Linked DNA regions of Homo sapiens: region 2 is linked to region 1. Evidence: fine-mapped expression QTL. A gene starts in region 1. The other region holds a variant in brackets. All regions are shown on one strand. Distances are between the middles of the regions. Region 1 holds the start of USP38 (ubiquitin specific peptidase 38). Region 2 overlaps USP38 (ubiquitin specific peptidase 38).

The links. PIP is the estimated chance that this variant, and not a neighbour inherited with it, causes the effect.
Region 2: its variant is fine-mapped to the expression of USP38 in blood mononuclear cells (TOPMed, PIP 0.99).

Annotation. Positions count from the first base shown.
Region 1 is chr4:143,172,241-143,188,988 of GRCh38, reverse strand. USP38 (ubiquitin specific peptidase 38) reads right to left here and starts at 4,072. Exons shown (of 10, transcript NM_032557.6): 1 at 2,857-4,072; 2 at 1,028-1,163. The coding sequence starts at 3,538. It overlaps USP38-DT (USP38 divergent transcript), which reads left to right and starts at 4,128. Exons shown (of 4, transcript NR_185979.1): 1 at 4,128-4,481. RefSeq lists silencers at 3,681-3,930, 4,151-4,200 and enhancers at 3,252-4,136, 4,137-5,022.
Region 2 is chr4:143,222,772-143,239,519 of GRCh38, reverse strand. It overlaps USP38 (ubiquitin specific peptidase 38), which reads right to left. Exons shown (of 10, transcript NM_032557.6): 10 at 15,646-16,748. Among named protein-coding and RNA genes, the nearest start is that of USP38, 46 kb to the right of the region's middle. The variant G/C (reference allele first, on the strand shown) is at 8,488.

The DNA.
Region 1 (16,748 bases):
TTATCATATTTAATCAAATCTAAAACAAAACCAATTTTAAGATGCATAATTAGCTTATATACCACTAAGGCAAGAAAAGCCGTGCCAATTTAACTAGGACATGAATGACTAGGCATTTCTACATTTAAACATCTTTGAAATTAGAAGACATGTTGGAATCAGTGAAGTGTGTTATTAAATTACTGTCTGCCTCCCCAACTAGAATGCAAGCCTATAAAGGCAGATATTTTTATCAGTTTGTTTGAGGACATTTTGAACACTGCCTGGCACTCATGGTAAGTACTCAGTAAGTGTGGTTTGAATAAATGAATGAATGACTGAATAAAAGTGCCAAAGTGCTAAGAAGGGCAAATAATATTAAGATTATACCTAGAAATGCAAGAATAAAATTACAGAACATCAAGGATAAAGAGAACATAAAAGTTTCCAGACAAGCTGACTACTCACAAAGGAATGACAGTCAGATTGACAGCTGACTTCCCACGAGCAACAACAGATGCCCAAAGGTAATACAGTATTATTTTTAAAATGCTAAGAGAAAATGGCTATCAAATTAGAATTCTGTATCTTGCCAAATCATCTATTTAAAACTGAGAAAGAAAAAAAATTCAAACAGGCAAAGGCAAAGAGTGTATTACACATTGAGCCTGGTTGAAAGAGAAAGTAAAGTATATACTTACTAAGGAAGAAAGAAAAAAAAACGCAGAAGAAAGAAATAGGTTGCAGGAAACAATAATGGGCAGTGAAATACTGTATACTGATAATCCAATCAACATCTGAGTGTATAATATGTGTATATGTGTGTATATTTTGGTAATTAAAAAAAGTTGAATTGAAAATAGATTTGTGAATTATTGGGATGCCTGTCAACGCTATAAACAATTCCAATCTATTTGGAGAATCTTTACATATGTCATTCCATGATTTTAGTTTTAAACATTCGTAAGTTTTTCATTACTCACAAAATACAAAATACTTCCTCTTCCCCAAATCTACAATTACCATTAATAGTGTCATGAAGAAGTACCTGCAAAGGGCTTGGGTCATACTTGCATCTTTTACATTTGGATCCGTAGTAAGGCTCCTGATGAGAACTGTAATCATCTGAAGAGGAATATGCTGCACAAGGCTTGCCAATGCTACAGAAGGTTCAAATGATGCATCTGTTTTTTCAATTAAAAAGAAAAGGGAACATGGCAAGTAGGTTCAAGTATTTAAAAAGAACAACACTTTACAAAAAAAAAAAGTCATTGCAGCAAAGGTGTTAACTAGGAAGGATTATTATGCTACACCCTCATGGGTAGACTCTTAATTTACAAGGAATGTTAAATTACAGGAATGAAAGATTAGGAGTGAACAGCAATGATCACTCATACTATAGACAGAATACTGAAATATATTGATATGGTTAGTCCATAAGTTACTTTAATTTTTCATAATTTATCGAGTTATTGTTGAGCTAAAATATTAACTTGTAAATCACTAATCAGAAAGGAAATATAAAGAAACATAAAGTATCATTTCAACTTCCACTTCAGACCCTCCAAAATAACTTTAAACTTATTGATCATTACATCCCTCTAAGGAAGATTTTGAAAAAATCTCTTAAAGTAGAAATGAAGGTGACTTTTGGGGGCACTTAAGTATCATTTCAACTCCCACTTCAGACCCTCCAAAATAACTTAAAACTATTCATCATTACATTGCTCTAAGGAAGATTTTTAAAAAATCTCTTAAAGTAGAAATTAAGGTGACTTTTGTGGAGATTTTGCTTAAACTGTATACAAATTAAGCAAATCCAAGACAAGTACCTTTACTGCTACAGTTCAAAAAATTTGGGAGGAACCTAACAGTTATGACAACACAGGCAATAGAAGTAAAATTACAATAAGAAAAAAAAACAAACCAACTCAGATACTGCAAATACATCGTTTGTAATTCTTTCGTAAATATATTAAATTCATCAGAACACAGAACGTTTGTTAAAACTCCACCTTTACTTCTGGTTCTTAAGATAAGAAGAGGACACATCCCTCACAAGTTCAATTTGAACAGCCACACAGTCCCCACTGGTGTTATAAATGAAGGAGAATGCTTGTACCAAGTAGAGCGGAAATGAACATGATTTTGAATCTATTCAGACCTGAAAGGTCCAAGACAGAACAACGAAGGTAGAGGTACTGGTAAAATTCCTCGGCGAGAAAGCATTTTCTAGGCAAGTATCATGTGACCCTTCTCTGCTTTCTGAGAATGCAGTTCATGGGCACAAAAACAAATATTTAAATCCTCGTACTCTTCCTTCCCTCATTCTATCTGTATTCCTCCTTTGTCTACTAGATACTGTAGACAAAAAATGTCACTATTTAAAAACTTCATAGTTATCTGGGATAATCCAGTAATAAAACAAACTGCACAATCCATTAATTCAAAAATGAGGAAATACAAAAATGGGGGAAAAACTCATTACAAAATTAGAGACACGTACAATAAATACTATGGTAAACATCATGCTACCATTAGTCACTAATGAATGGAAGCTTTCTGCAGTAGCTGTCATCCTCAAAGCATTCCAAATAACTTGAGCAGAGGCTGGGTAATTAAGCAACTTGTTTAGTGCCAAAGGTCTTAGACCTGGACGTTCTCAACCTTTAAAATGGGAACGCTGCCTGTTTTTAAAGTACGATGTGACGTCCTGAATAAGGTAGTGAATGTGAATAAATTTGGGATGAGGTATTAGGATTTGCTCTCGCTTAAGAATGTTTTTAGGGCAGGAGGAAAACATGGTGTGAATGTGTGTGTGCAAGAGAGACATATACTGATTTTTTATGAGATATTCTGAAAGATAATGACCCTTACCTGTGGAAGAGATGCTTGCAAAAACTTCTTGCAGGGAAGGCAGTAGTGTGGCAGGCTCGGCCTTCCAGATGTTCTGCAGCAAGTTACTCACTTTTGTCACCTGGGAGACATATTCCCGCAGCTCTCTTTCCTGGGTGGACACGCACTGGAAATGGCCTATCGTTCGAACCAGCTGTTGACAGAACGTGATGGACAATTTCCCCTTGGGGATGCATTGCACAAAGTCGGTCAGAAGGTCGCTCAGTCGGGCACAGAGCTGCGGCTCCGGCCTCTCACACACCATCCGTAACACCTCTACCTGCAGGAGGCTAAAGAGATCCAGCACCGACGGACAGCTCATAATCAGCTTCAGGCCGTTGTGAATGTAGTCCAGGATGGCTACATCCTTCCTGTCCAGAGAGTGGTAGCCCTGATGAAGGAGGCCCAACACGAAGGTCTTGTTGAAGAAGGACTCGAACTCTGGCCGGTGGTATCGTGCGTAGGCCTCCAGCACCTGGTGCCCCACCTGCCGCTGGAAAGGGTCCTGGCCCTCCAGGATGAGCCGGGTCGTCAGGTCAAACATGGCCTCGCACTGCGCCTCGTCTAGCCAGTGCTCCGCCGATTCCACCACCTTCCGCACAATCACCCGCTTGAGGGGCAGGGGATGCGAGGAACTCACAAGGCCCTCCAGGATCTTGTCCATTGTCGCCACGCTGCAAGGCCAGGGCCAGGGGATAAGGAGCGGGTGGCGGCAGCCCCGAGGTGGGGCAGGAGAGCCCCGGGGCGGAGATGAACTTGGAGCGCCGCAGCAGCAGCGCGACGGGCCACGGCCACCGCCGCCTCAGCAGCCACATTTATGGCGCAGGGAGACCCATCCAAGCCGGGGCGGGAGCTAGCGAGCCTGGAGAGCCTAAGAACCGACACCTGCGGCTGGCCTAAGGCGCCAGAGGCCCGTACTCCGCCGCCGCCCCGGGCCCTCGATCCCACTCAGCATCAGCGCCGAGGGGCCTGTCGGGCCCCCCAGCGGCGTCGGCGGGAGCTCAGGGCCCGGGGCTGCTAGCCGGCGGGTGGAGGAAGCACGCCTCCGAGTTCCGGGTCAGGTGTGGGCGTCCAGTCTCCAGCAGGTCGTGAGAAGAAGCCGGTCCTGGGCTGAGTCAGGAGGCGCTGTCACGGAGAGTGCTGGGATCAGCCGGGGAGAAGAGACCGAAGCGACACCCTTTGACCCGGATTTTGAAGTGCCGGCAAACAGGAAGTGAAGGACCTAAGAACCTCCGGAAGGACCGCCCCTCCGCCCCTCTGCCCCTCCGCCCCTCCGCCTGTCCGCCTCTCTCCTTCTCCCTTGTTCCCTCTCTCCCTCCCTGCTCCCCCACCTCCCTCCCGAGTCGTAGACTCCCTTCCCCCCGGCGCTGGGAGTCTCCTTCCCGCCCCGCCGCGCAGGTGCGGCGACGGCCGCGTCACTGGAGAGTGTGTCGAGTCACAGGCGGTCTTCCGCGCGGAGCGTCCCCGGCGGACGCTGCGCAGATGGCTGCGACTGTAGGATTCTTGCCGGCTAGTCTTCGTCGGTTCCGCCTGCGTCAGGTTACTCGTGAAAACTCGAATAAGTGCTATCGATGTGAAATCCGAGGAAAAGAGCATTTGGGGGAAAAGTAAGGAAAACTCAAAACTCGGATTGAGAAGTCTGCCTTGGCTCATTAATCAAGAATTGCGCTTGCGCGCCTAAATGTGACTGCCTTTATCCTGCGATGTCGGTATTGAAGTAAGAGCAATACTGGCGGCGTACCTAGCATTTAGCGACCATCAGTATCAGTAGCAGGCCTCTAGCAAAGAACCAGTTAGTGAGCTTTGTACCATATCGAAAATTATAAGCCGTCCAAAAAAGTGTGAGAGTAAGGAAAATGGCAGATTAGAATCAAAATATTTTTATACCTGTGTCATACAAGGGTACTTTGAAAATAGAAAACCAGGTGGAAATACCACAAAACTTATTGTATATGTTGACACCGAAGATGGTTTACAATAGGGAAGAACAGGTGCAATCATGCTTGTTCTGTTTCATGCCAAATTCCGAAGATTCACAGTAAGAATTTAATCAGAGGTCTTTATATTGGAAAATATTGCCTAACTGTAGCCTGCTTCAGGCTTGGTTAATATAGTTGTGAAACTAGACATTAAGGCCCTGTAATACAGACAAAACTTTAAAGAAATAGGTCATTTAAAATGTCCCGTAGAAAAATGAACAAAATTCTGTTACTTCAGTTTGCTAAATAGTGTTTTGTTTTTTTACCAAGTTACAAACACGATTACACTAATATATTCACACGTCGATTATGGTAGTCTTAAGAAGAGCAGTTTAGAGGAGACAGGAGCTTGAGTAAAAGGGAACTTAAGACCAAGTTGACTCGTAGGAAGATACGGAAGATAAAAGAGAATTGAGGTAATTAATCTATCAGTCATGCTAGAGACAGGAATGATTTTTCCAATAGGAGGTGAAGGTACACAGATGTTTGTCTTTACTGGGAATAATGCCACAGTGGAAGACAAAGGTAATATAGAAAATAAAATATTAAGAAGGAATTAAGTATTAAGAAGGATCGTGGATTTGAGGTGGAGTGGAGGAAATTTGGAATTAATCTTTGTGCTAAGAAACTAACAGGACGAATGAAGATTGCTGAATAGTACCAGCGAAGTGATTATTCCAAAGTAGACAAGAAAAAAATATTGGTAAATTTAAAACTTGACAGATTACTTTGAATTGTCTATAACATTTTCTTCTTTCTGTTAATATTAGGTCTTGAAAAATTGAATATTACAAAATAAGATGTCTGAGAGAACATAGTGCTATTAGTCCATATAAATTACATGTCATAATATTAGACTTCCAAAAGCACCATGACTCTGTATTTTTAAAATACCTCTTGAATGATAGATGCATGAAATGAAATACTAGGTTTTTATACCAAGATATTCAACGCTTATTTCCTTCTTTTGCCACTGGTTAAAAAATGTATGTAATATGCTCTTTTATAAGATTTCAATTGAAAGTGGCCAACTTTAAATTTATTTTATAGCATAACTAAAAGTTCTATAATAATACCATGTTCCTTTTTAACATTTTAAAATATTTTCAGAAGTCTGTGGAAGATTTTTTTGCAGTGAATCATGCCACTAATCATTGGATTAGTGGGTGCTATTGTAATGGGCTTTAAAATTTCATATAAAGATTTAGTCTAAGGCCTCAATTGCCAACTACATGGTTTTACAAATATGTTAGATCTGAGAATGGAAGCTGAGTGATGGGGATGAAAGAGAAAAAGCACAGGATAAGGAGTGATTGTTTATTTAGCAACCTCTGTGTGCCTGGAACTCAATATATTACACTTTATCCTTAGTTCTCAAAACGGGGTTTTGGAAATAGATGTTAATAGCTACATTTTATAGATAAGGTATTGAAGCCAAAGGAGGTTAAAAAAAATAATCAAGTCTGACTCTAGAGTCTCTATTATTTCCATCATACTATTAGATGAAAAGTGTGTGTATGTGTTTATGTTTGTGATAAGCAAAGAGAAAAGGCAGTTCCAAAAGCAGTGGTTAGAGTTGGCCAACTGCAATAACATTATTGTGAGGTTAGTTTTCTCTTAGGAAATTTATATCACCTAATAGAATCAAAAGCAAACTGATTGTATAGATTAGAGAGGACTGTGATAAATAAACCATCATATGAAGTAATTACAAATAATCCCTGACTTTATGAAATTTATATTCATATGTTTTTTAAGTTGTAAAGAAAAAAAGACTGTAAAGAAACACACCAACCACTTTGATATGGTTTTTGTTTTAATGACTTAAAATGGACATCAAGCTAATCTTACGACACTATTTCATTTAATTTTTTTCACAGTGCAAAGTGAAAGCAAGTTTATTAAGAAAGTAAAGGAATAAAAGACAATTAAAAATTAAAAATATACCATTGGCTACTTCATAGGCAGAGCAGCCTCACTACCCTATTTTAAATCTTCCAGTGCTTCTCCTCTTAAAATTCAAATGGCTACTGTTGACTTTAAGGCCCTCCATCAAGTTGCTCTTGTGTCTTTTCCTACTGTTCTCATTTATTATATGTTTACAGCCTTTTTCTGTTCTCTAGAATCTAAGCTTCATGAGGTCAAAAAGAACCCCTTAATTTTATTAGTTACTTCTATATCTAGCAGTTAGAACACTAGGGTAAACAATCTATCAATTTTTTTTGTCTGTGAGATGAAGTCTCTCACTCTGTTGCCCAGGCTGGAGTGCAGTGGTGTGATCTCAGCTCACTGCAGTCTCAGCTCACTGCAATCTCCACTTCCTGGGTTCAAGCAATTCTTCTTCCTCAGCCTCCTGAGTAGCTGGGATTATAGGCACCCACCACCACACCTGGCTAATTTTTGTATTTTTAGTAGAGATGGGGTTTCACCATGTTGGCCAGGCTGGTCTTGAACTCCTGACACAAATGATCCTCCCATCTCAGCATCCCAAGGTGCTGGGATTACGTGAGCCACCATGCCCAGTTCAATCTAACTATTTTTTGAATGAATGAACTTTTAAAAAATGAAATGAAAAACATGGTTTAGAAAAAGTCGTAAGGAGTCTACACAGTAATTTCTAGAACTAAAAAACAAACTCAGCAGGGTTTCAGAATATAAGATAATAGACAAAAATCAGTTGTACTTTTATGTACTAGCAATGAACACATGGAAACCAAAATTAAAAATATACCATTGATAATTGCTCAAAATAAAAACTATGTAGGTGTAAATCTGACAGTGGATGTACAGGACTCATGCTGAAAACAACAAAACACTGATGAAAGAAATCGAAGATCTAAATAAATGACCATATACATGGATTGGAGGACTCACCATAGTGTAGATGTTAATGATCTCTAAATCGATATGCAGGTTTAATACAATTCCTATTAAAACTCCAGGCAGGTTTTTTTTTTCTTCTTCATATACAGGCAAGATTATTCTAAAATGTATTTGGAAAAACAAATCAGAGTAGCTTCAACAATTCTGAAAAGGAGGAATTAAGTGAGAGGGATCATTTTACCTGTGTTTGTTCTTATGCTGCTAATAAAGACGTATCTGAGACTGGGTAATTTATAAAGGAAAGGTTTATAAACACAGTTCAGCATGGCTGGGGAGGCCTCAGGAAACTTAAAATCATGGTGGAAGGGGAAGCAAACATATCCTTTCACATGGCAGCAGGAAGGAGAAGAACGAGAGCTGAGCTAAGGGGGAACCCTGTTATAAAATCATCAGATCTCGTGAGAACTTATATCACGAGAACAGGAAGGGGGAACCTGCCCCCATGATTCAATTATATCCACCTGTTTCTTCCTTCAACACGTGGGGATTATGGGCATTGCAATTCAAGATAAGATTTGGGTAGGGACAGAGCCAAACCATATCACTACCCAAAAATAATACTCATTGTATGCCAGGGTAATTAAGACAGTATGGTAATGGCAGAGAGACACATAGATCAGTGAAATGGGCAACAATAACCTAGACCCACACAAATACACCAAACTGATTTTTGACAGAGATTCAAAAGCCATTCAGTGAAGGAAGGATGGTGTTTTCAACAAATGGTGCTGGAGTAACTGGATGTTCATAGGCAAAAAAGAAATGAGAAAATTCTATAACTGGGAGAAAACAACAGTACCACTGGACTGTACTGCTACAGGGTTTCACAGAAGCCCCAAACTTATTTGGTCAAATCTTAGTCCTGGAGGAATTCCAACCTTCCAGGGGAACCCAGTTGTTACAATATGTAGATGAACTTTTAATATCTGGCAAAAGGAAGGCCGAGTGATCAGAAACCACCATAATCTTGCCTTATTTTCTTTGAGAAAGGGGATTGCGAGTCTCTAAGAACAAATTGCAGTTTGTAGAAAAAGAAGTTAAATATTTAGGACACCTGATTGGTGAAGGGAAGTGGATAATAAACTCAGAATATTGGGAATAGTGGGTTTGCCTTTGCCTAAGACAAAGAGAAAACTCCAAAAATTTTTAGGTTTAACTGGCTACAGTAGGTTATGGATTGACTCATATGCTTAAAAGACAAAATTCTGTATCTCAAGTTACTAGAAGAGGAGCCCAATCCCTTGTAATGGTCCCTAGATGAAATTAAGGCAGTGAAAGAGCTAAAGCAGGCCCTCATTACAGTCCTGGTCCTGGCCCTCCCATCTTTAGAGAAACCATTCTATCTGTTTGTAACAGTAGACCGGGGCATGGCCCTTGGGGTGCTCACTCAAACCTGGGGAGGGAAGAGGCAACCTGTTGCTTTTGTCTCCAAGCTTCTCGATCCTGTCTCTCAGGGGTGATCTGAATGTGTGCAAGCAGTAGCTGCGACAGCCCTGCTGGTAGAGGAGAGTCGAAAGCTAATGTTTGGTGGGGCCCTAATAGTAAACACCCCACACCAGGTCAGGAATATATTAAATCAGAAAGCTGGGAGATGGTTAGTGGATTCTCAGATTCTAAAATATGAAGCCATATTACTAGAAAAAGATTATTTGGTTGTAACACCAGATACTTGCCTGAATCCAGCCAGTGTCCTATGGAAAGGAGACCAGAACAAAGAGACATCAGATCATAACTGCTTAGATACCATAGAATACCAAGCCAAAGTTAGACCAGACCTTAGGGAAGCTCCACTACGTGATGGATTAGACTGTTTGTGGATGGGTCATCCGGAGTGATAGATGGCAAGGGACTTAATGGTTATGCTGTCTTTGATGGAAATAAACACTCATTATGTGAGAAAGGTAGATTACCTAATGGCTGGTCGGCCCAAAAATGTGAATTACATGCTCTTGACCAGGCCCTAAAGCTCCTTGAAGGCCAGGAAGGAAATATATATACTGATTCTAAATGTGCCTATGGGGTGGTACACACTTTTGGAAAAATCTGGACAGAGCGGGGCCTAATAAATAGCAAGGGAAAAGAATTGGTACACGGGGAACTGGTCAAACAGGTTTTAGAAAGTCTCCTGCTTCCAGCAGAGGTAGCCATAGTTCATGTAAATGATCATCAGAACGGGAACACTATAGAAGCTGTAGGAAACAGGTTTGTGGATGAAGCTGCTAGGCAAGCCTCCCTGGAGGAAGAAATTAGACTATTTAGCCTGATACCAGACATCCCTAAGGTGGTATTAAGGCCTCAGTTTACCAGAGAGAAGAAGGAAGAATTAGGCAGGATAGGGGTCACTCAAACTGAAGATGGGAAATGGGTACTTTCTGATGGGAGAGAAATGATAAGTAAACCCCTGATGAGAGAACTGATGTCTGTATTACTCCCCAAAGGGAGTCACTGGGGACCCCAGAGTCCGTGTGATGCAATATTTAAGAATTATGGATAGATAGGGATTTATACCCTCGCTAAACAAGTATGTGGAAGTTGTGTAACTTGTCAAAGGATAAACAAAGAGGTGATTAGAAAACAGTTCATGGGAGGAAGACCTCCTGGACTAAGACCATTTCAGAGCATTCAAGTAGATTTCACATAAATACCCAAAGTAGGAAGACTGAAGTATTTACTGGTGATTATAGGTTACCTTTCCAGCTGGGTGGAAGCCTTTCCCCTTCCAACAGCCACTGCCAGGAATGTAGTCAAAATAATATTATAACAGACTGTACCTAGATTTGGCCTGGTGAAAAACGTTGATTCAGACAATGGCAGCCAATTTACCTCCCGGGTGTTAAGGGGAATTATGGAAGGTTTACAAATTAGATGGGATTATTACACCCCTTGGCATCCCCCTTCCTCTGGAAAGGTAGAAGGAATGACTGAAACTCTCAAAAAGCATTTCACCAAACTAATAAACTAAAATGCCTTGGACAAAATGTCTCCCAATAGCACTCCTTAGGAAGTCCCAAGAAAAGACTTGGGATTGTCCCCCTATGAGTTATTATATGGGCTCCTGTATTTGGGCAGAGCTACAGATCTTCCTACTATGGAAACCAAGGATCAGTTCTTAAGAAATTATATACAGTCATTATCCTCCACCCTGTCATCCCTTAGGTTAAAAGGACTTCTGACTCAAACTCCTCCTCTTGAGTTTGCAGTTTGCCACTTCCAGCCTGGCGACTAGGTGCTGATTAAGACTTGGAAAGAAGACAAGCTCCACCCAAGCTGAGAAGGTCCCTGTCAAGTGCTGCTGACCCCTGAGATGGCCATATGTACAGCTGAATGGGGGTGGACTCACTATACTTGTCAAGGGACTGGTAAAAGAGACCCTGGAAGGGTGGGAAAAAGACCAGTGGAAAGTACATGGGTCACCTGAGGAACCCTTAAAATTAACTCTGAGATGAATCTAAAAAGAAAACATGGGCTGGTCCCATTTCTGGAAATTAATATGGCTGGGATGGGCTACTATGCAAAGAGAAGAAGGTCAAAGTAGAAACTATCAGGGGACTCCTCCCTACCCACTCAGGTTGGTAATTAATGTAAACAAGATGGTGGCACCCAAGACTATAAGATTTGATGACTGCCAAGGTTTTTACCTTGTAAGAATTTGGAAAATCAGAGACAGCTCTCACATGTGGATAAATATCCACTTCATATGAGGTGCTTGGAATAGTCAAATTAGAGGTTTCTAGGGGCTAGGGAGAAAATAAATGGGGAGTTATTGTTTAATAGGTACAGAGTTTCTCTTTCAAAGAATGAAAAGTTCTGTAAATGGATAGTGGTGATGATTGCACAACAGTGTGTACTTAATGCCACCGAACTGTACACTTAAGAATGGTAAATTTTAGGTTATATTTTACCACAATAAAAAATTAAAATCAACAGTAAAGAAATCAATCCAATTAAAAATGGGCAAAAGATTTCAAGACACATTTCAATGAAGAGGATTTACATATGGCAAACAAATGGAAAGTTGTTTAACATTTCTAGCTAATAGGGAAATGCAAATTAAGACCATGAGATATTATAACACATTTATTAGAGAACCACTAAAATAAAAAATGGTGACAACATTAATGCTGGCAAAGATGCAGACAAACTGATTTCTCATACATTGCAAGTGGAAATGCAAAATGGTTTAACCACTCTGGAGAATTGTTTGGAAGTTTCTTAAAAATTAAACATGCAGCTATCATATGATCAAACTGTTGAACTACTAGGTATTTATTCCAGAGAAATGAAAACTTATGTTCACACAAATACATATACACAAATGTCCAAAGCAGCTTTATCTGCAATAGCCAACAACCAAAAACAATCAAAATTGTCATCAGTAGGTGAATGGCTAAACAAACTATGGTCATCAGTATGCTGAATGGCTAAACAAACTGTGGTACATTCTTACTGTGGAATATTACTTAGCAATAAAAAGAAAGAAACTATTGATGGACACAACTTGGATGGATTTCAAGGGCATTTTTATGCCAAGTGAAGAAAACTAATCTCAAAAGTCACATACTATGTGATTCCATTTGTACGACATTCTCAATATGAGGAAATTTTAGAGATGAAGAACAGATTAGTGGTTGCCAAGGGCTAGGTATAGATGGGAGAGGCAGAGGGATGAGTAGAACTTTTAATAAAGGGGTAGAATGAGGGTAATTCTTGTGGTGATAGAATAGTTCTGTACCTTGATTGCGACTGTTGCATGACTCCATGTGTGGTAAAGTGGCATGGAATTATACATATGTTGTATCAATATCAATTTCCTGATTGTGATATTATGCTATAGTTATGTAAGAGGTAACATTGAGGTATAACTGAGTGAAGAGTACAGAGGATTTCTCTGTATTATCTTTGCAACTTCGTGTGACTGTATAATGATTTCAAAATTAAAAAGTTTAAAACATTTAAGTCTTTAATCCATCTTGAATTAATTTTTGTATAAGGTGTAAGGAAGGGATCCAGTTTCAACTTTCTCCATATGGCTAGCCAGTTTTCCCAGCACCATTTATTAAATAGGGAATCCTTTCTCCATTTCTTGTTTTTGTCAGGTTTGTCAAAGATCAGATAATTGTAGATATGTGGCATTATTTCTGAGGACTCTGTTCTGTTTCATTGGTCTATATCTCTGTTTTGGTACCAGTACCATGCTGTTTTGGTTACTGTAGCCTTGTAGTATAGTTTGAAGTCAGGTAGCATGATGCCTCCAGCTTTGTTGTTTTGGCTTAGGATTGACTTGGCAATGCAGGCTCTTTTTTGCACCAAAAGCAGTCCTAAAAGGGACATTTACAGCAAGAAATGCTTATGGCAAAAAAGAGAAAAGATCTTAAATAAACATTCTAATTGAAAAAAAAGTTTAAAACACAACACCCCTTAAAAAACCAACCCTGGCCATAAGTGGCCTGTACTTTCAATTAGGTGACTTTAGTCTGCCCTGTTTGATCTTCCCCACCGAAACAAACCCCAAACTCCATAATATTTAGAAACTAAGAGATTGGAACTTCCGACATCATGTTTTTTATTTATTTATTTATTTTTGAGACAGAGACCCGCTCTGTTGCCCAGGCTGGAATGAAGTGGCATGATCTCAGTTCACTGCAATCTCCGCCTCCTGGGTTCAGGAAATTCTCCTGCCTCAGCCTCCCAAGTAGCTGAGATTACAGGCGTGCACCACAATGCCTGGCTAATTTTTGTATTTTTAGTAGAGACAGGGTTTCAACAGGCTGGTCTTGAACTTGGCCAGGCTGGCCTTGGAAATTCTGGCCTCAGGTGATCCGCCTGCCTCAGCCTCCCAAAATGTTGGGATTACAGGTGTGAGCCACTGTGCCCAGCCAGGATTATGTTTTAAGAGGCAAATGGATTCATGACTATGCATAGACAGTGGCCTATGCAGCCTATGAGGCCTACTACACATTAATTCTTGCTCTTATCTAACTAGATGTAAATGGGAAACAAGTTATTAATAAATCATTGTTGCTAGAAATAAGGGTTTTAGTTCTAGTATTTATTAAATACGATTAAAATGTAGGGATTATATATATATCTATTTGAATTCTGTGTAATAAGGATTCCAACATGGGCCCTCTATCAGTTGGAATTGCTGTGACAGATTCTTTATGAAAAATAATCTAGAGAGTAATTGTCTCAGTCAGCTTGGGCTGCCATAACAAAATACCATAGACTGGGTGGCTTAAACAGCAGAAATTTATCTTCTAACAGTTCTGGAGGCTGGAAGTCCAAGATCAAGATGCCAGTAGCGTTAGTTTCTGGTGAGTGCTCTCTTCCTAAATTGCAGATAGCTGTCTTCTTGCTGTGTTTTCACGTGGCCTTTCCTCTGTGCATGACAGGAGAGAGAAGGATCTCTGGTTTCTCTTTTTATAAGAACATGGGTTCTATTGGATTAGGCCCCACCTTTATGACCTCATTTAACCTCAGTTACCTCCTTAAAGGTTCTATCTTCAAATGCCCATTGAGGCTTAGGGCTTCTACATATACATTTTTTTGGGGGGGAAGGAGGAAAAAATTCAGTCCATAACAGAAACCAATTTTTTCTCTGTGGATTGCATTATTGCTATTACCTAATAGACATAAAGCTAGTTTTTCTCAATGAGACACCTAAAATTGAGTGACTTTTTTGAGTTGTTGCCAGATCTATTAATTAAAATTTTAATTGGGGTAGGGCACAGAAATCTGTGTTGTTAGTAGACCCCAATTGATTCTTCTGCATTACCACGTTTGAGTACATTAATCTAAGCAAACCCTCTCCCCACATTAAATTGCGGTTGAGAAACTAGATGGGGAAAAGTTAGGCGTCTTATTGACACAGCTATAACTTTACTAGGTTATGAATTTCTCAGTGTATAGTGGATTGCACTAAAGACTTTGGAGGGATGGTATAAAAAGAAACTCACTTTGAGAGACTTAAATATTGAAGGCATCTTAGACTGCTGGCAAAAGCCATAGCTGAAGAAGCAAGGAGACTAGGATTAAAATTCAAGCATGGTGAACCTCTGCGAGCGTCCATTCGTCTGATGCTAAATAATTCATCTTAATTAGATTAGTAACCTAAGACTTGATATTATAAGCAAGGGCAATTTAGGTAGTGATAATACTTACAAGATCTGCTTCAGATAGAGTTGGTCTAAACAAAGTTTCTTAGAATACTAAATTGTTTTTTAAATTAAAAAATTCGATTGCTGGTTGGCAGTTTAATTCTCTGTGGGGTATATGGAATTTACATTCAATATGATCCAAAGATGCATGATAAGTAAGTAAAACATATAGTGTGTTAGTTGGTGTAAAGTGCTATGAGGAAAAGTAATTCAGGGAAGGGGGTGATAGTAATTACAGTTTTAAGTAGTATGATCACGAAATGCTTGTTAAGAGTGGTGACATTTGAGCAAAGCTCCAAAGGACCCTGCAGACATCTGGGGGAAAGAGTAGTCCCACAGAAGGACCAGCAACTGCTATGGCTGGTGTGGCTGGAGTGATTTCAAGGGAGGCTGTTAGGAACGGAAGTCAAATAGCATGGGCTATTGCAAACACTTTGGCTTGTACTTCAGGTGAGGTAGAGAGACATTGGAGGGTTTTAAGCAGAGAGATGGCATGATTTGACTTGATGTTTTAAAAATATCAGTCTGCAATATTATCAAAGTCAATTCTTTCCAAAGTTATTATTTTTTTTGGAAATTTAATATAGTCACAACTACAGTGCCACCAGGTAATTTTTTTCATGGAGTTAAACCTATGTTCAATATACAGTTTAATTGGGAAAATTAAATGTGTTTAATTTAAATTTAAATTAAATAAAACCATACAAGTACTAGAAAACCTAGGTGAATTAATTTTAATCTAGAAGTGAGGAAACCTTGCTAACTGTTACTCAAAATCCAGATAAAATAAGGAAAAAAATGGAAAAGTTTATTACATAAAAATTAATAATTTGTATGGGAGGAAAGAAGAAAAATAGAAGATAAATTACAAGTTAGGAAAAAACATTTGCAGGTTAGTCATGGGCAAAAAAGGAGTTTGATATACCTACTATATAAAGAGCTCCTGAAAATAGATTGGAAAAAGGCCAACAACTCCATAGAAAAGTGGGCTAGAACAGTTTACAAAGAGATGGCCATCCGCCATGGGAAGAGATACGCAACATCACTCTTAATAAAATAAATGTAAATTAAAATTATGCTTAAATGTATTTCTCATGTGTCAGACAAAAATTCCAAAGTTTGACCACATGCTTTGTTGTTGAGGCTGTGGAGAAACAGGCATTCTCATACATTGCTGATGGGAATGTAAAATGATATATAGAGGTGAATCTGGCAATAATAAAATTACCTGCATTTCCATGTGATCCAGCAATCTTACCTGAGGGAATCTATCCTTAAAACATACTGGTAAAAATATGAAAACACATGTACTATATGTGTGCAAGTCTTCTTATGATAGCAGTCTTTGTAGTAACCAAAGACTACTGTAAGTAAACCAAGTTTCCATGAGTAGGGGAATGGCTGATAAAGTAAATCTGCACAATTGAGTCCATTAAAAAAAAAAGAGCGATCTTCAGAATATACTATTAATTTTATTTATTTTTTATTTTTTATAGTTTGAAGAGTTTTTTTATTATACTTTAAGTTCTAGGGTACATGTGCACAACGTGCAGGTTAGTTACATACGTATACATGTGCCATGTTTGTGTGCTGCACCCATTAACTCGTCATTTAACATTAGGTATATCTCCTAATGCTATCCCTCCCCACTCCCCCAACCCCACGACAGTCCCCGTTGTGTGGTGTTCCCCTTCCTGTGTCCATGTGTTCTCATTGTTCAATTCCCACCTATAAGTGAGAACGTGTGGTGTTTGGTTTTTTGTCCTTGGCGGTAGTTTGCTCTGAATGATGGTTTCCAGCTTCATCCATGTCCCTACAAAAGACATGAACTCATCATTTTTTATGGCTGCATAGT
Region 2 (16,748 bases), 51 kb before region 1:
GGTTGGAAAATGAATGAGCAAATACTAAGTATTGTAAAATAAAAATTTGTAAAGCATACAATAATCATACAAATGCACCACAATAGGCTGGGTGTGGTGACTCATGCCTGTAATCCCAGCACTTTAGGAAGCCAAGGTGGGTAGATCACTTGAGGCCAGGAGTTTGAGACCAGCCTGGCCAACACGATGAAACCCCGTCTCCACTAAAATTATAAAAATTAGCCCGGTGTGGTAGTGCATGCCTATAATTCCAGCTACTGGGGAGGCCGAGGCAGGAGAATCGCTTGAACCCAGGAGGCGGAGGTTGCAGTGAGCTGAGATCGTGCCATTGCATTCCAGCCTGGGCTAGAAGAGTGAGATTCCATCTCAAAAAAAAAAAAAAAGTTTTTTCATGAACCTTATCATGACTTAGTGCACCAGTGACACTCTTGGACTTTCTGCTCTGTCCTGTGCTTCCTCTTTCTTCAATAGCCATTCATTTTAGTTAAGACAGAAATTTATCATACAAGATTTATTTTCATATAAAATTTTTCCTTTCTTTTTCACTTTTTTAACCAAACGTATAGTGTCATATCCATAAATTTCTTTACATCTCTCTTTCCTACTTACTGGTTTCTTTCTGTCTTGTTTCTATTTCTTTCCTAAATCCATATTTTGAATCAACCTTTAAATAAACTCCAAATTATATAAAATTATTCTTTTTCTCAATAAAGCCCACATTTTAGTGCCATCTTATAATTAATTTCCTAAAAAAAACCTTACTTTTCTGGCCACATTTTGCATATGAAATTATATAAAAATTAGAATTTCCAGGCCGAGAAGTAGCTCATGCCTGTAATCTCAACACTTTGGGAGGCTGAGGCGGGCAGCTCCCTTGAGGCCAGAAGCTTGAGACCAGCTTGGGCAACACGATGAAACCCCGTCTCCACTAAAATTACAAAAATTAGTCCACTGTGGTAGTGCATGCCTATAATTCCAGCTACTGGGGAGGCTGAGGCAGGAGAATTGCTTAAACCCAGGAGGTGGAGGTTGCAGTGACCCAAAAAAAAAAAAAAAAAAAAAAAAATTTTTAACTCTTAGTAACCTTAAATTTTAGCAAGCAATTTTAAACTGTCACATCTCAGTATTTTATAAATAAGAACCATTTTATAATTTTCAGAAACATGTTTTCTTATAATTTTTTAAATCTTAATTGGAAATGACCCAGATATTTAATGAGCATCTATTATTTAATTTAACATAACTTTAAGATTTTAAATTACATGAAAACTCCATTTACAGGCATTTATCTCATTTACAATTACCTAATCTATTAATTTTTAACAGTTTCGCTAGATTATTTATGCGAACTGAGATATTTATCAAAGCTAGTCACCATTTCAAAATATATTCCTTTTAGCCATTTTTATAACCTGTGAACATTAAGTGTTCACTTAAGTAAGAATCTTAAATACATGGGTATTTTGCAGATAACTCAGAAGGTGGGATTACAGGCGCCCACCACCATGCCTGGCTAATTTTTGTATTTTTAGTAGACACGAGGTTTCACCATCTTGGCCAGGCTGGTCTTGAACTCCTGACCTTGTGATCCACCCGCCTCGGCCTCCCAAAGTGCTGGGATTACAGGCGTGAGCCACTGCACCAGGCCGGTTCATGAAAAAACTTCATGAAATAAATTTTGCATGTGATTCAGTCGCCTTTAATTAAAAGGAAATTATTTATGTGTTCTTAAAGATTGAGCTTTGATGTTAAAAGTACATTAATACAAAACTAGAAATTTTGGTCTCCTATGTTAGAACAGCGAGATTTTCTTAAATTATTGATTTGATCTTAATAAAACTGCAAGAGGTTTTAATTTCTTTTCTTTCCTTTTTTTTTTTTTTTTTTTTGAGACGGAGTTTCACTCTTGTTAGCCAGGTTGGAATGTAGTGGCGTGATCTCGGCTCACTGCAACCTCCACCTCCCAGGTTCAAGTGATTCTCCTGCCTCAGCCTCCTGAGTGGCCGGGATTACAGGCACCTGCCACCATGCCCTGCTAATTTTTGTATTTTTAGTAGAGACGGGGTTTCTCCATGTTGGTCAGGCTGGTCTCGAACTACCGACCTCAGGTGATCCACCCGCCTTGGCCTCCCAAAGCGTTAGGATTACAGGCGTGAGCCACCGGGCCCGGCCAATGTTTCCATTTCTAATTCTGAACTCTATTCCTTTCTGAAACTTGTTTTTATCAAGATAATTCCCACATTATCTGTGTTAGATTTTTGATTACTTAGGAAAATGAAGCTTTAAAAGGATTGATTTTTACACCCATGCAACTTTTTGTATTCCTTCTGAAGTCTTTTGATTTTCACTCTGATTAAATGAACAATTATTATTTAACAATAAGCTGTGATTCTGTTAGGGTCAACTGTTTTGAATCTTTTGACATCTTTGGCAGGTTTCCCCAGGATCAAAATCCTAAGTTAAGTCTTATTGGCTTAAACTTAATTTTAAGATTATCTAGTTGGGCCCCTGGAGAGTTTCAAAGAATATATCTCTCATCTTATAGAGAGAGCAAATGATTAGACTTATTTGGTAAATTGTATGGGAGGCATTGTCAAATGGTAAGTAATAACAAATTTTCTCAGTTACATTTATTGGTATGTTATTGATGTCAATGTTACAAAAGTATGCAGATTCATAACAATATAATGCTAGTAGTCATAATTTTGGTTTTGTTAAATCTTTTCTAAAGTTATATTTGTATGGATATGTTATTAATGTGAATATTCAAGAGTATGTGAAACTTATTAAAATCTGATAGCCCTGATGTGATGTTATCAGTTATGATTCTGGTTATTATCTGAAAATGCTGCATGTAATAGAAATAACTAAATTTCCTTGTCAATTGGGAACTTTCATCAGATTTTAACCATGGCTATTTTAGGTTTTTGCCATCCATAGTTATTGTTTTGAACTCTTCTCTAAAAGCACTGGCAACCAACTACAGTCCAAAATTACTTTCATGAAAAGACTCTGACAAGTGCTCTTGAATACAGGCTTCTGATAACTTTGGAGATGATATCATTGAACTAGATAAAACCTTCCAGAACTCTAATAAAAAAAAAATGACGTGTTCATGAAGATTGCTAACATGACACCAAGCAGAACAAGAAGTACATGGGACTGAACTGATGAGGGAATAAAGTGATTTTTATGACCTTTTCATTGAAATATTGCTGATTCATTTTGTATTTTGTTTTTCAGAATCAAGAAAACTTATTTTCTTTTGAGCAATTTGTATCTTACAGTAATTGGTATTCTTTTGCAAGCAAAATTGAAACATTTACCTTTCTCTCTCTACCTGAATTCTCCAGGATTTGGAAAGTATTAATAAGCATTCTTATTTTATTTCAATATAGTTATTTGAATAAGTTCAATAGAATCTATTTTCTTTTGTTATAGGACATATTAGAAGCACTGGTTATTTTACCAAGGCTGTGGCTGGAATATTATATTTTCAAACATGGCAAGACTGCTTTGAAAGACTGGGATTGAAATTATAAAGCCAATATAAAGAGAAAGACTGGCCTGGTACCTGGTCTGCACAGCTCTCTTACAGGGTCCCTGACCTTGGGGTAAGTAAAGAATGTCACTTTCTGGCTGGGCACAGTGGCTCATGCCTGTAAGCCCAGCAGTTTGGGAGGCTGAGGTAGGCAGATTATTTGAGCTCAGAGTTTGAGACCAACCTGGGCAACATAGTGAAACCCTATCTGTACCAAAAAAAGCTTAAAAATTAGCTGGGTATGGTGGTGTGTACTTGTAGACCCAGCTACCTAGGAGGCTGAGGTGGGAGGATCACTTGAGCATGGGAGGTTAAGGCTGCTGTGGGCTGTGATCACACCACTGCACTCCAGCATGGGCAACAGAGCGAGACCCTGTCTCAAAAGAAAAAAATAAAAAGGCCAGCCACAGTGGCTCAAAGTGCTGTAATCCCAGCACTTGGAGAGACTGACACTGGAGGATGGCTTGAGTCCAGGAGTTCAAGACCAGCCTGGGCAATGTGGTGAGACCATGTCTTAAAAAAAAAAAAATTAGCTGGGCGTGGTGGCATGCACCTGTAAGTCCCAGCTACTCTGGAGGCTGAGGTGGGAGGATAACTTGAGACTGGGAGGTTGAAGCTGCTGTGAGCCATAATCATGCCACTGCACCCCAGCCTGGGTAACAGAACAAGGCCCTGTCTCACACACAAAAAAAGATGTCACTTTCTGACAGGCCAAGAATGTCAAGATACTTGGGGGACTTTAAGAAAAAAGGAATTCACCCCATTTGTACAGGCATTACACGCATATTCTCATGATGAATCCTTGATTTGGCTTGCTAGACTTGAGAGGCTCTTAAAAGTCTAATCCAAAATCCCTTATGAAAAAATTCCAGCAAAGCCAACTTAAAAAGGATCCTATGTGGGCAATGGCTATTCTTTTTACACTTTATGCAACTAATCAGGCAAAGTATAATAAGACTAAAATGTATATTGAGAATAAATTGGTGTTGCTGTGATTTCTCTTTAATAGAAAAGGGGGACTGAAGAAAGAAAAATAATGTTTCAGAAGAAAAGTATAGCACACCTGTTATTAGACTGTAGCCCTGACCATTGTTTTTGAGTTTTTTATTACTTGCCTGCAATTTGGACTGAATACTAGATTATTTTTTGGCTATGAGAAATCTCTAAAGAAGAACCTGGATTTAATTTTCTTCATGATGTTTTTAGTTGGCTCGCTAGTGGAATCAGTTCTTTTTTTTTTTTCATTTTGGCATACAAATTCTCTTTTTGATTATAATTCTTATGTGCAATATATTACTACTATTCAAATTATTAATGCTATGTATCTCTTGTTGTTTTACTTTCACAAGAAAACTAAAATCATGAAATTCCAAAGACTAAAGGTGATTCAACAAATGATAGCAGCTATGAATTGATGACACTTGTTTAGTCATCCCTGGGACTAAGTTCTGTATTTTGTTCTGGTTTTCAAGTTGTTATTATTAAAATCATAAACATGGTTGTGATTTTTCTGGCTACTTCATATTGTCTTTGTGAGAAAGACCCTGGAAGGGTTTTCTCACCAGATTATACTTAATAAACATAATGAACCCACTCTGAAAAGTCATAGGCTTAACAGCCAACCAAACTAAACAGAGGTTACAAAAATGCATCATGCTAAAAGCCAAAGAGTCCATGAAGTAAATAAATGCCAAAAGAAATCCACAGGAATTTAAATATAACTAAAATTGGCCAGGCACAGTGGCTCATGCCTATAATCCCAGCACTTTGGGAGGGTGAAGTAGACCGATTGTCTGAGCCTAGGAGTTTGACACCAGTCTGGACAACATGGTGAAACCCTGCCTCCATTTTTAAATAATAATAATAATAATAATAATAATAATAATAATAATAAATAACTAAAATTGCTAAACAAAGGGAACCCTCCTTTATGGATTTTAACTCTGTATTGTAATTAAATAGATTAAGGCACAGTTGATCATATGTTTTCTCTAAAAAGCCTAGTGCCTATTCTTCACAAATTGACATTTTTATACCTTATCTTATTCTGCCATTTCCAAATACTATAGCCTTAAAAAATCCAATATATATATTTGAAATTATTTGCCACCATTGTAGGAATCATAGACTATTTGATCTGACAGAGATCTCTTTCCAGGGTTTTTATTTCAAAATTAAAGAAAATACATATATTGTAATTTAAAAAATTACAGGGTTATCATTGGATTCTAAAAATGTCTCCTGTCAAGAGCATACTCTGGGCTCAAAACATTTTTTTTTTCTGAAGGGAAGTATCCCAATATTTTGCTTTAGGACTCTGTCTTATTTGCACAAGTGCTCTATCTTGCTAAATTAATCTTTCTCCTGCCCGTGCCCTCCGTCTATCATAAGGGTGTATTAAGATGTCATAATAATAAGTCTGTTGTCTTTCCATTATGTGCAATTGTGTTTTGAAGCAATGGTATTGCCTGCAGCAGACTCTGAGGTGTCTCTAGGGCCAACATGTGTTGTTAGTCGATCTTGGATTTGTGTTTTCAATGATTTCACACAGTAGGAAAGTTATCACTACAAATATACGATCTGAGAGAATCAATGCTTGGCATTTTGGTTAAGATGAAATTTCATTAAAACAAACTTTAATGCTGGCTTACAAAGGAGAAGAAGACATAGAAACATATACCAGTTTTCTCTGGACTAAATCACGTACCTGTGTCAAGGGATATTGGTAGCTCTACCTACTCAACTTGGTGGAGGAAAGGATAGGTGGGAAAAGTGAGGTAAAGTGGTTTTCTGAGACAATTCCATGTATTTATATGATCCTTAGGTTTTTTTTTTTTTTTCATTACCAGCTGTCAGAATTGCTGTTTCACTTTGGCCAATGTACTTTATTTCTCCTAGCCTCAATTATGTGGTATGTAAAATAGGAATAATGATACCTGTTAGAGTGATTGTATTGATAAGATTATAAATGTAAACCACCTAGCTGATTGGTTTAGTTGAAGTTATCTTAGTGCAAATATTAGAAACTCATTGAAATAACTTCAGAGGAAATAAAGGCTTATTAAGGAATACAAATATGGGGGAACCAAGGAAGAATTAGACAACCAGGGAGGAGAGGAACTGGTTTGTCTCTAAGGATTAGCCCTTCTCTGTCTTTTTTTTTTTTTTTCTGCCCCTCTCTACAGGTCTGCTTTTTGTCCTCCTTCTGTCAACCAGCTTCCTTATTTTACAAGTTACTCAAATGGCCTCTCTAATCTCCAGCCTATATAGTCACTTGGAACCAGCACCCACCACTAACAGGTAATTCTCTATGTCTCTTTATTTTACTTGCAGAGATTCCTGATTGTCGAAATTCATCTTTTAGAGCAAAGAAAGAAGTCCTGGCTTGTTGGTCATGTGCTGAATGGATTGTCTTTGAGGCCTGTATTTCCTGATTCAAAAGCAATGGAAAGGAGGTGCAGCATCTGGTGGGATGCTTCCTATGGAATGCACTCTGGGTGGGGCAGACAGTGATAAATAACTGTATAGGGATGTTTATTTAGCACTCCATAAATGTTGGCTCTCCTTATTGCCTTTCCTCTTCCTCCTCTCCTGAGTCATTTTCTTCCTAACACCGAGGTCCTAATGAGGGAATTACAGGCTCAGGATTACTGATGAAGGATGCCTGGGAGATAGGCCTCTGTGGAGTACATACTCATTTTCTACGCCAGTGAAGGAGGTTCCTTGTGAAATGATAAGCAATACTTATGCACTTTTTGCCACACTATAGCCAGAATGGATCTATCCTGTTGTAAGTAATTTTCTGCAATGTCATGGGCAGCAGGAGCTGTGATTAATAAATTGAAAACAGACCATAAATTCTATAACAGTTATCAAGTCACTATGACAAGATGTCTCTTGAAATCTACTGAAATATATAATTATTAGGCTGCTAGGACCCCTTTAGATATTTGCCATGCCCTTTAGATATTTACACTTGCCATGTGTAAGTGCAGCACCTCATATTTCCCCTATGACTATAATTGCTGGTTTATTTCCCTTCCCTGCCAGACTCTGAGCTACAAAATAAAGGTTGGGGCTGTGTCCACTTTGTTCAAGTTCAACTTCATTACCTTGCTAGCCAGCATTGTACCTAGCACATAGTAGATGCTAAGAAATATTTTCTTAATGATAAACAAACTTACATAACAGACTTACAAATGTAGCTGGTTTCCCTGAGACAATCACTGAATCATTTATGTACTTAAAAATTATGTTTTGGTCCATTAAAGCTCACAGTTATTATATTTGTCTTCTTTAAACTTCAAGTAAACTCAGGTTGTCTCCTGAGCATCTCATCTTTGAGAACTGCCCGTTCACAACAGTGGTATACATTGTATAAGTTTTGCCTGAAAAAGGGCACCCAGATGATGGTGCTTGAAAAGGGGTTGAAATTCAGCCCTCAAGAAATACAGTCTTGATTCGCATCAAGCCTCTTGGTATTGACTTCATTAGCTTAGAGCAAGAGATATTCGTTTCTTTTTGATTGTCCAAATAGGGCTGGTGCCTTTTTCTAATTGTCATAGACAATTAGACATAGGCACTAGGACAGCCTGGCCCACTCCACCATGGTGAACTCTTGATAGCTGGATTGCCTGGAAAATGGAGATATGAATTGTTTAAGGCATTTATTCCGAGTCAACAGTAGATCTGGGAAGATAATTTGCCAAATGGCACCCAATTTATTTTTTTGCCTCTAGTATTTAACACAAACTTAGCTCTTTATATAAGTGCGTAACCATGATGGCCTAATCATGATGTTCCAAAAAGGATAGTGGAATATGGAATAACTGTTCCAGACAATTGCTGTCCTGTTTATATTGGCAGCCTGAGTCCTTGTTGAAGATAGAATATTCTGGACAATCACTTTCCAAAGCCAGATTTTAAGGGTAGTTATAGTGTTTTCT[G/C]TATTCTAAGGCAGTGAAGATTGAGAAGCAAGTTTTGTATTATTACTATTATTTTACTTTTCATTTTGCAGTCATCTTAGCCATGAGTGAGGAAAGTAATAAACTTGTGTCTATTGGCTAATCTGCTTACGTAGTTGCTTCTGCTATTACTGAAAGCCGAGAGGGTGGAAATTACCCAATTCAAGAAATTATTCAGCAGAAACCTACAGAGGTGTATCACTGATTTCAACTGCAAATTATTTTTCCATGTTCTGAGCCTCGATTTCAATATTTTTCTCATTAACACTAGACTATGGTTTGAGAACAAACTGCTCCATACAGAACTAAATGAAGGTCAAGCCTGTCATTCACACTAAAAATGAAGTTCTCTGGAAATATAAGCTGCCAAAAATACAGAAAAGTAGTATTTATAAACATGTGTCTTGGACTTAGCTAAGTATAGATTATCGTGGAGAAATTAAAGGGCAGCAGTGCTAGTGCTCTGTACTGAAATATTGTGATTTTGATATCAAGACCATAACAACCAAAAGACAGGCATCCTGAAAAATATTCACCTAGTTTCAAGAAACTAGGATCAGCCAGGCACAGTGGCTCACGCCTGTAATCCCAGCACTTTGGGAGGCCAAGGCAGGTGGATCACGAGGTCGGGAGATCGAGAACATTATGGCTAACACGGTGAAACCCCGTCTCTACTGAAAATACACAAAATTAGCTGGGCATGGTGGCACGTCCCTGTAGTACCAGCTACTCGGGAAGCAGAGGCAGGAGAATTGCTTGAGCCTGGGAGATGGAGGTTGCAGGGAGCCGAGATCGTGCCACCGCACTCCAGTCTGGGTGAAACAGCAAAACTCTGTCTAAAAAAAAAAAAACAAAACCAAAAACCAAAAAACCCAAAAAACCAAAAACAAAAAAACTAGGATCAGTGGTAGGAAGTGGAGGACTGAGTATAAACCAAGACCCAAGAAATAAAAATAAACTTAAAAAGAAGACAAGATGTTCTAATGGGGTCTAGCAAGCAGACAGACTGGTTAATAAGTGGACAATAGCAGCAACATTAAAAAATAAGTTTATTGGTCTGTTGTCTTAACAATAGGGGAAACCATTAATAATATTGTAAGTTCTTCTTTCAGAAGTCACAGACGGTCCATTCTCTAAATGGAATTAAGCCTGAAGTTTCCAGGAAGATAGGTGCCCAGATTTTTTCCGTAGCATTTTCATTTATTTCAGTAATTAGACAACACATGTGTTTAATTTTTAAAGGGTACCCAAATAATGGACAGGATGGGAAGGAGGCATAAAATGATAAAGTGTAGTTTATCACCATTATGGCTTATCACTAGAGTTGTGCTGTTCATTATGGCGGCCATGAGCCTCATGGCTCATGAGCATCTAAAATGTGGCTAGTGCACCAGAGTAGGTGACATTTAAATTAAATAATGGATACTCAATTTAGATATATACAAACAGTTCATTTCATCCTGTCCAATTTTCTGCAACTCTCTTGTTTTAGGCCCATCATCCATCACTGAGGCTCTTCCAACAGCTTAACTACTTTCCTTTTCTAATGAAACACTCTGGGAGGCTAGACTCAATAGAGCTGCCAGTTATAATTAAAAATTTAAACTTTTTTTGAAGTACAAAAGACATACAGGGAAGCACAAAATTATAAGTAGATAGTTCCACATGTAATCACAAAATCAACACAACCTGGTAAACAAAGAACCAGGTAAAAAAATGTAACATTAATCACACCACAGAAGTCCCCTATTCATGATCTTTTCTGAACACTTCTCCTTCCCTTTCTCCAAAGTTAATATTGTCTGTACTTCTCATACCACAAATTAGCTCCCGCCTGTTTTATAGAAACAGAATCATAAAAGTGTGCATTCTTTTGTTTTTTTTTTTTTTGAGATGGAGTCTTGCTCTGTCTCCCAGGTTGGAGTGCAATGGTGCAGTCTAGACTCACTGCAACCTCCACCTCCCAGGTTCAAGTGATTCTCCTGCCTCAGACTTCCGAGTAGCTGGGATTACAGGTGCACACCACCACACCTGGCTATTTTTGTATTTTTTGTAGAGACGGGGTTTCACCATGTTGGCCAGGCTGGTCTCAAACCCCTGACTTCGTGATCCACCCACCTCGGCCTCCCAAAGTGCTGGGATTACAGGCTTGAGCCACCACGCCTGGCCACAAGATGGGCATTCTTTTGTGTTTCCCTCAGTATTATGGTTGTGGAATTCAAATGTTGTGACGTGTATCTGGAGTTTATTCATTTTTGCTGCTGTAAAGGAATTTAATATATATGAATGTCCATCAGAATTTATATTTTGCTAAAAGCAGCAAGAAAAATGCATATCCACAGATTACTTATCCATTCTTTTCTTCATGAATATTTTGGTTGTTTCAAGTTTTAGGCTACTATGAATAATACTGCATTGAACATTTAAAACTGTTTCTGTGTACACAACATTTAAAATGTGCCTTCTGCACACATTTTTTGTAGCATCTCTCTTTAGCAGTGAAGTTACCAGATAACACAGTAGGCACATGTTCAGTTTTAGAAGATAGTGCCAAACAGTTTCCAAAGTACTTTTATCAATTCACGCTCCTGTAAGTAGTATATGAGAATTAACTTTCTATATCCTCACCAATGTTTGATATTGACAGTTTTTTTAAAGTTTATTCATTCTATGAGCATTTAATGGCATATTATTGAGGTTTGGTGATTAATGAAGTTCAGCACCTTTTTGTATATTAGAAATTTATTTTCTTTGGAAGTGCCTGCTCTTTTGCTCATTTTTCTATGGCTTTTCTATGTTGATTTGTAGTTCTTTATACGTTCGCTTATGATTTACACAGATGTACCATTTTGTGGCTTTGTATTTTATTATTATTATTTTTAATTAGAGACGATGTCTCACTAAATTGCCCAGACTGGTCTTGAACTCCTGGGCTCAAGTGATCCTCCCACCTTGGCCTCCCAAATTGTTGGGATTACAGGTGTGAGCCGCAGCACCTGGCCCATATTTTATTCTTAATGGAGTTTTTGATGAAAAGCTTTTCATCTTAATGTAATCCATTTTATCACTGTTTTCCTTCATGACTAAGGATTTTTTGGTCCTGTTTAAGAAATCTTAACCATACACCTAGATTTTGAAGATGTTCTAAGTAATCTCTTTGATGTGTTATTTTGCCTTTCAGTTTACAGTTAAAATCCACTTGAAATACATTTTTTATATATAGTGTGCGGTAAGGGTTTTCTTTTATCTTACATGATTACCCACTGTACCACTAAAATTTATGGAAAAGACCATCCTTTTCACACTGAAGTGTCACCTTTGTCTAGGGGCCAAGTCATTGCAGTTTGCCTGGGACTTTCTTGGTTTTAGCTGAAATTTCTATGTCTTGGGAACAGCCTCAGTCTCAAACAACTAGGATGGTCACATTATTTTTGTCATAAATCACATATGCATGTAAGTATGGGCGTATTTCTGATAAGTCCCCTTATCTTAATTATTTTAGCTTTATAAGTTTTATCTTGTAAAGAAAGTCATTCTACCTTGTTCCTCATTTCCAAGAGTCTTGACAATTTTTGGACTTTTTCCCTTTACATTTCCGAATCAGCTCAATACAAAATAGAATTCCCAGATTGGGATTGCATTGATTCTACAGACTGGGAAAAGTTGGCTATTTATTTTGAGGACAAATTAGGTATTTATAATATTGAGTCTTCCAAGCCATAATTTATCTAGGTCTTCTTTAACTTCCTAAATAATGTTTTATGGTATTGTGTGGCAGTCTTATGCATCTTTTATTTCTAAAAAGCTGTTTCTAGATTTCTAAAAAATTGATTTTTTACATTATTGTCAATATTTTAAAATTTCATATTCTAATACCTGTCACTGGTGTATAAATATACCCTTGAACTTTGTATATTAACTTTGTATTTAGGAGACTTGCTAAACTCAATTCTAGAAGTTTATGTGTAAGTTAAAGATTCTTACTTTGGATTCTACATAAACAGGTGGCTGGGTCACAGGCTGTAGTTTGCCCATCTCTGTGTTAGTCCATGTTTATACTTCTTTTCCTGGGAGTCTTTGTCTGTACAGTGTGTGTTTGATGCACAGTGGATGCAGCAGGAGGTCCAAATTGCTGCTCATGGGCAGTGTGTCTTGAGCTTCCCAAAACTGTCCCTGCTTTCTTGTTCTGGAAATTGAGTCAATGGTGCCAAATCCATTTCCAAATCTTCCTTCCTTTTTGTAGATCCAAATCTCCACCTGGTATGCTCTCTTCAGCCTGAAGAATTTTAACCTATCTTTTAGTGCAAATATTCAAGAAAAAAATTCTCTCAGCTTTTGTCTAAAAATATCTATTTCCCCTTCATGTTGAATGAATCTTCACTGGATATAGTGAGTATTCACTAGGTTGACTTTTTTTCCCTTCTGCACTTTTTAGATGCCATTCCACCATCCTCTAGCTTTCATATTCTGATAAAATGACTGGTCTTTTGTTTCTCTATATCAAGGATCAGAATTTTTAAATGTACCACAGTAAATATTTTAGGCTCTGCAGGCTGTATGGTGATATGGTTACACCATAATCAATCTCATCTTGGATTGTAATTTCCAGGTGTTGAGGAAGGAACCTGATGGGAGGTGATTGGATCATGGGGATGATTTCCCTCATACTGTTCTCAGGATAGTGAGTTCTTACAAGATCTGATGGTTTTATAAGGCAGTTTTCCCTGCTCTCTCTTGCCTGCCACCTTGTAATACAAGCCTGCTTCCCCTTCTGCCATGACTGTGTTTCCTGAGGCATCCCAAGCGATGCAGAACTGTGAGTCAATTAATCCTCTTCTTTATAAATTACCCAGTCTCAGGCAGTTCTTTATAGCAGCATGAAAACAGACTAATATATATGGTCTCCGTCATAACTACTCAGCTCTACCATTGTAGTGTAAAAACAGCCATACACAATAGGTTACAGGTATAGCAGTGCTCCAATAAAACTTTACTTACGAAAAAGCAGGACGCAGGATAGACTTGGTCTGTGGGCTCTGTATTGTTTGCTGACCTCATATTCTTTTCCTCTGGGTGCTTTTAATTTTCTCTTGGATAACTGACTCTCAGATCTTCCATTTTTCTCTTCACTGTGCTCATGATTTTCTACATTCCTCTTAAGCTCCTACTTTGCAAATTCCTTTCTTTCCATAATTTCTGGATTTTTCTCCTTCTTTGAATGCCTCAGACTTTTTGATCAGATGCTGGATACTGTGAATTTTACTTTCTTAAATGCTGGGTATGTATACTGCATTTCCTTAAAAAGGTTGCCATTTGTTCTGTATGCAGTTAAATTACTTAAAGAATTTAACCAGCATTAGAATTTGATCCTTTTAAGACCTACTTTTAATCTTTGTTGGGTGTAAACTTTATACTGTAAAGGATTAGCCTTTACTCCAGTGTTAATTTAGCCCCATTGCTAAGCCATGGCCTTCTCAAAGAGAAGCACAATACACACCTCAGGATAAAGGCGGAGACTAATCAGCTTGGGAAGTCAGTATGAGAAGATATGAACATACTGAAGAGTAGGAGGTCATTAGTCCGCTGAAAGCTGGGAAGAGAAAGTAGCGTAAGGGGAATGGTATGCTATCCTGAGACCTGAATGTGCAAAGGTCTCGAGATGGCAAGTATATGGTGCTGTGTGAAAAAAAATGATGCAAGGTCCAATATGCATGACAGAGGGCATAAAGGCAAGAATGGAAGAGATAAGCCTAGTAAAGCAAACAGAAACTACGCGGGTAAAACAAATGAGTTTAAGAACCACATTTCTCAACCCTTTAGATTATCACATATAGGTTTTAACAAAGTAGATCTTTTTTTTTTTTTTCTTAAGGAATCATGTTTGGAGTGCAAAAGGATAAAGGAAACACACTGATATTTCATTTTACAAAATTCATTGTTAAGCTTTTGTTAATATGTAATTTGCTTTAGTCCTGTTGCTCCATTAGAGTATTGACTTTGGAGCTCTGAAGACTTGGGTTAAAATCTTAGTTCTGATTTTTACTAGCTGCACGATGTTGAGCAAGTTCCTTAATCAGAATCTTTATTTTCTTTGTCCATTAAGGGGTAAGGGAGGATATGGGTATGAGCCCACTTACAGGGCTGGTATAAGTTAAAAAGACACATAAATATCTGCCAGTGTCCAGCACACGGTAGACTCTTGACATATGTTAATAATCCCCTTGAATGAAAGACCTATGGGGAAAAAATTCCTTTTGTAGTCCAGTTCTCAACCCAGGTGGCACATTAAAATCATGTGAGGAACTTCAAAAAACGTTGATGCCCAGTCTCCACATAATGTAATTGGTCTGGGATGAGGGTTGGGCATGGTATGATTTTTAAAAAGCTCAAGTGATTTCAACATGAAATGCAAGGTTAAAAACTGATGACCTGGCCAGGAAAGGCTAAATTTTTCACCCTCTGAAATCAAGGGATGTGTGTGTGTGTGTCAACAACACAAGCAAAACATGAAAACATGAGCTCCATGAAGAGAAAAACAACTGCAGGTCATAACAGACACTGACGAGAGCTGGCAATACACTTGGCTGACTTCTTAGATTCTATTTTTAATGTTAAGTCCACACTGGTTATGTAACAGTGGGGCTAATGGTTTTACATAATAAATCCTTTTGAATTTGTGAAACCTAGACTGCTGATTTTATAAAAATCTTGATTCTCATTTCTTTAGAAATTATTTCTATACAAATTTCTTCATATGGGAAAGCTTTTTTTTAAACAAGCTAGTTTTTTAAAGCAGTTTTTTTTTAATCCCCCATTCATTTTAAGGTTCGTTCACTTCTAAAAAAGGACTGTAAGAAAATTAACTTAGGCTAACACTGAAGATACATAACAGTTTGATAAAACTTAAGAATATACATATGAAACAGCTTATATTTTAGAATTATTTGTTTTTTGGGGATAGCAACTTTTAATTCAAATTTCCTTACTGTTGCACTTCTTAGTTACAGGTTTGCATTATCTAAGATTTAACCTTACTCCTCTGATGTTACTGAGTTGCTAATAATAACCAGTTAGCATTTCCTAGTATGTTTTTGTAAAATGTGAATAACTTACTCTTCTCTACTTCAGGAATATTTAGTTTCAGAAATCTAAACTCATTAGAAAAAACGTATGATGAAAGGATATATAAACTATCACATTTTTATGAGAAAAAATACTATATATAAATGTACAGTATTTTTGAAATAGTCATTTTAAAAGAGCTCTTTATATGGAATGTATCATGTGAAGTACACAATCATAGGAAAAGATGGACTGAGAATTAAAGACCTGGAACAAAGTACAAAGCATCAAAATGAAGATCTCCAGTAACTGGACAAACAGTGCCAATTATTTTTTTCCTAAACTGTGCTGGGCACACAATAAGCATCCAATTCCACTTATTATAAGATGATAGCTTTAAAGAGGTGTATGTGAAAAGAAGACAACTACTTTTTTAAGGATTATCATACAAAGAACAGAACTGAAGAGAAAAAAATTATAGATTTGAACTTAAGACTTAGCTTGAAAATTTTTGTTCTTTCCACATGTGCATTAATGTAATAGGCTGTTTGAACCTTTCGCATGGACCCCCCAATGCCTCTAGCATCATAATGAATTTTTATCTCTACATCCAAAGGATCTACCAACAATTTAAGGTATGGAGATAAAAGTCAGGGATCTCCAGGGATATACTGCCCTGCTTCTCTGATTATTTAGCTGGAAGAGAGGCAGTGGGAAGATGCTTGAATGGAAAATGAGCTAGAATCCTTCCTTCAATTTGATATGTTAATGCCATAAATCAGAGTTGCACAGGCACCTGCTTAGTGGATAGCTTACTGGAGCTTGTGTGACATCATATATATTTCCTTCTTTGCATATCTCTAAACAATTTTTTACTTTAATTATGTCAATAAACATCTTTGAAAGAAAGACTCAGATTTGTAGTTTTTCATTTTTGCTAGCAGTGAAGCCTAATGCTTCTTAGCAGCAATGAGCAACTTCATTTAAACTGATTACTCTGACTAAGGAAAGAAAAACAACAATAGTACTCTACTCAGTCTTCAGAGTCAAACCTCACAACAGTTGGAGCTAGTACACGGGTTAGGAATATGGGAGAAAGAAAAGACCTAATATGACAAATAAATCTGTAATTAACAGGGATCTGTTAGAATCAGAACAGTCCTGAGTATTACCTTACTAAA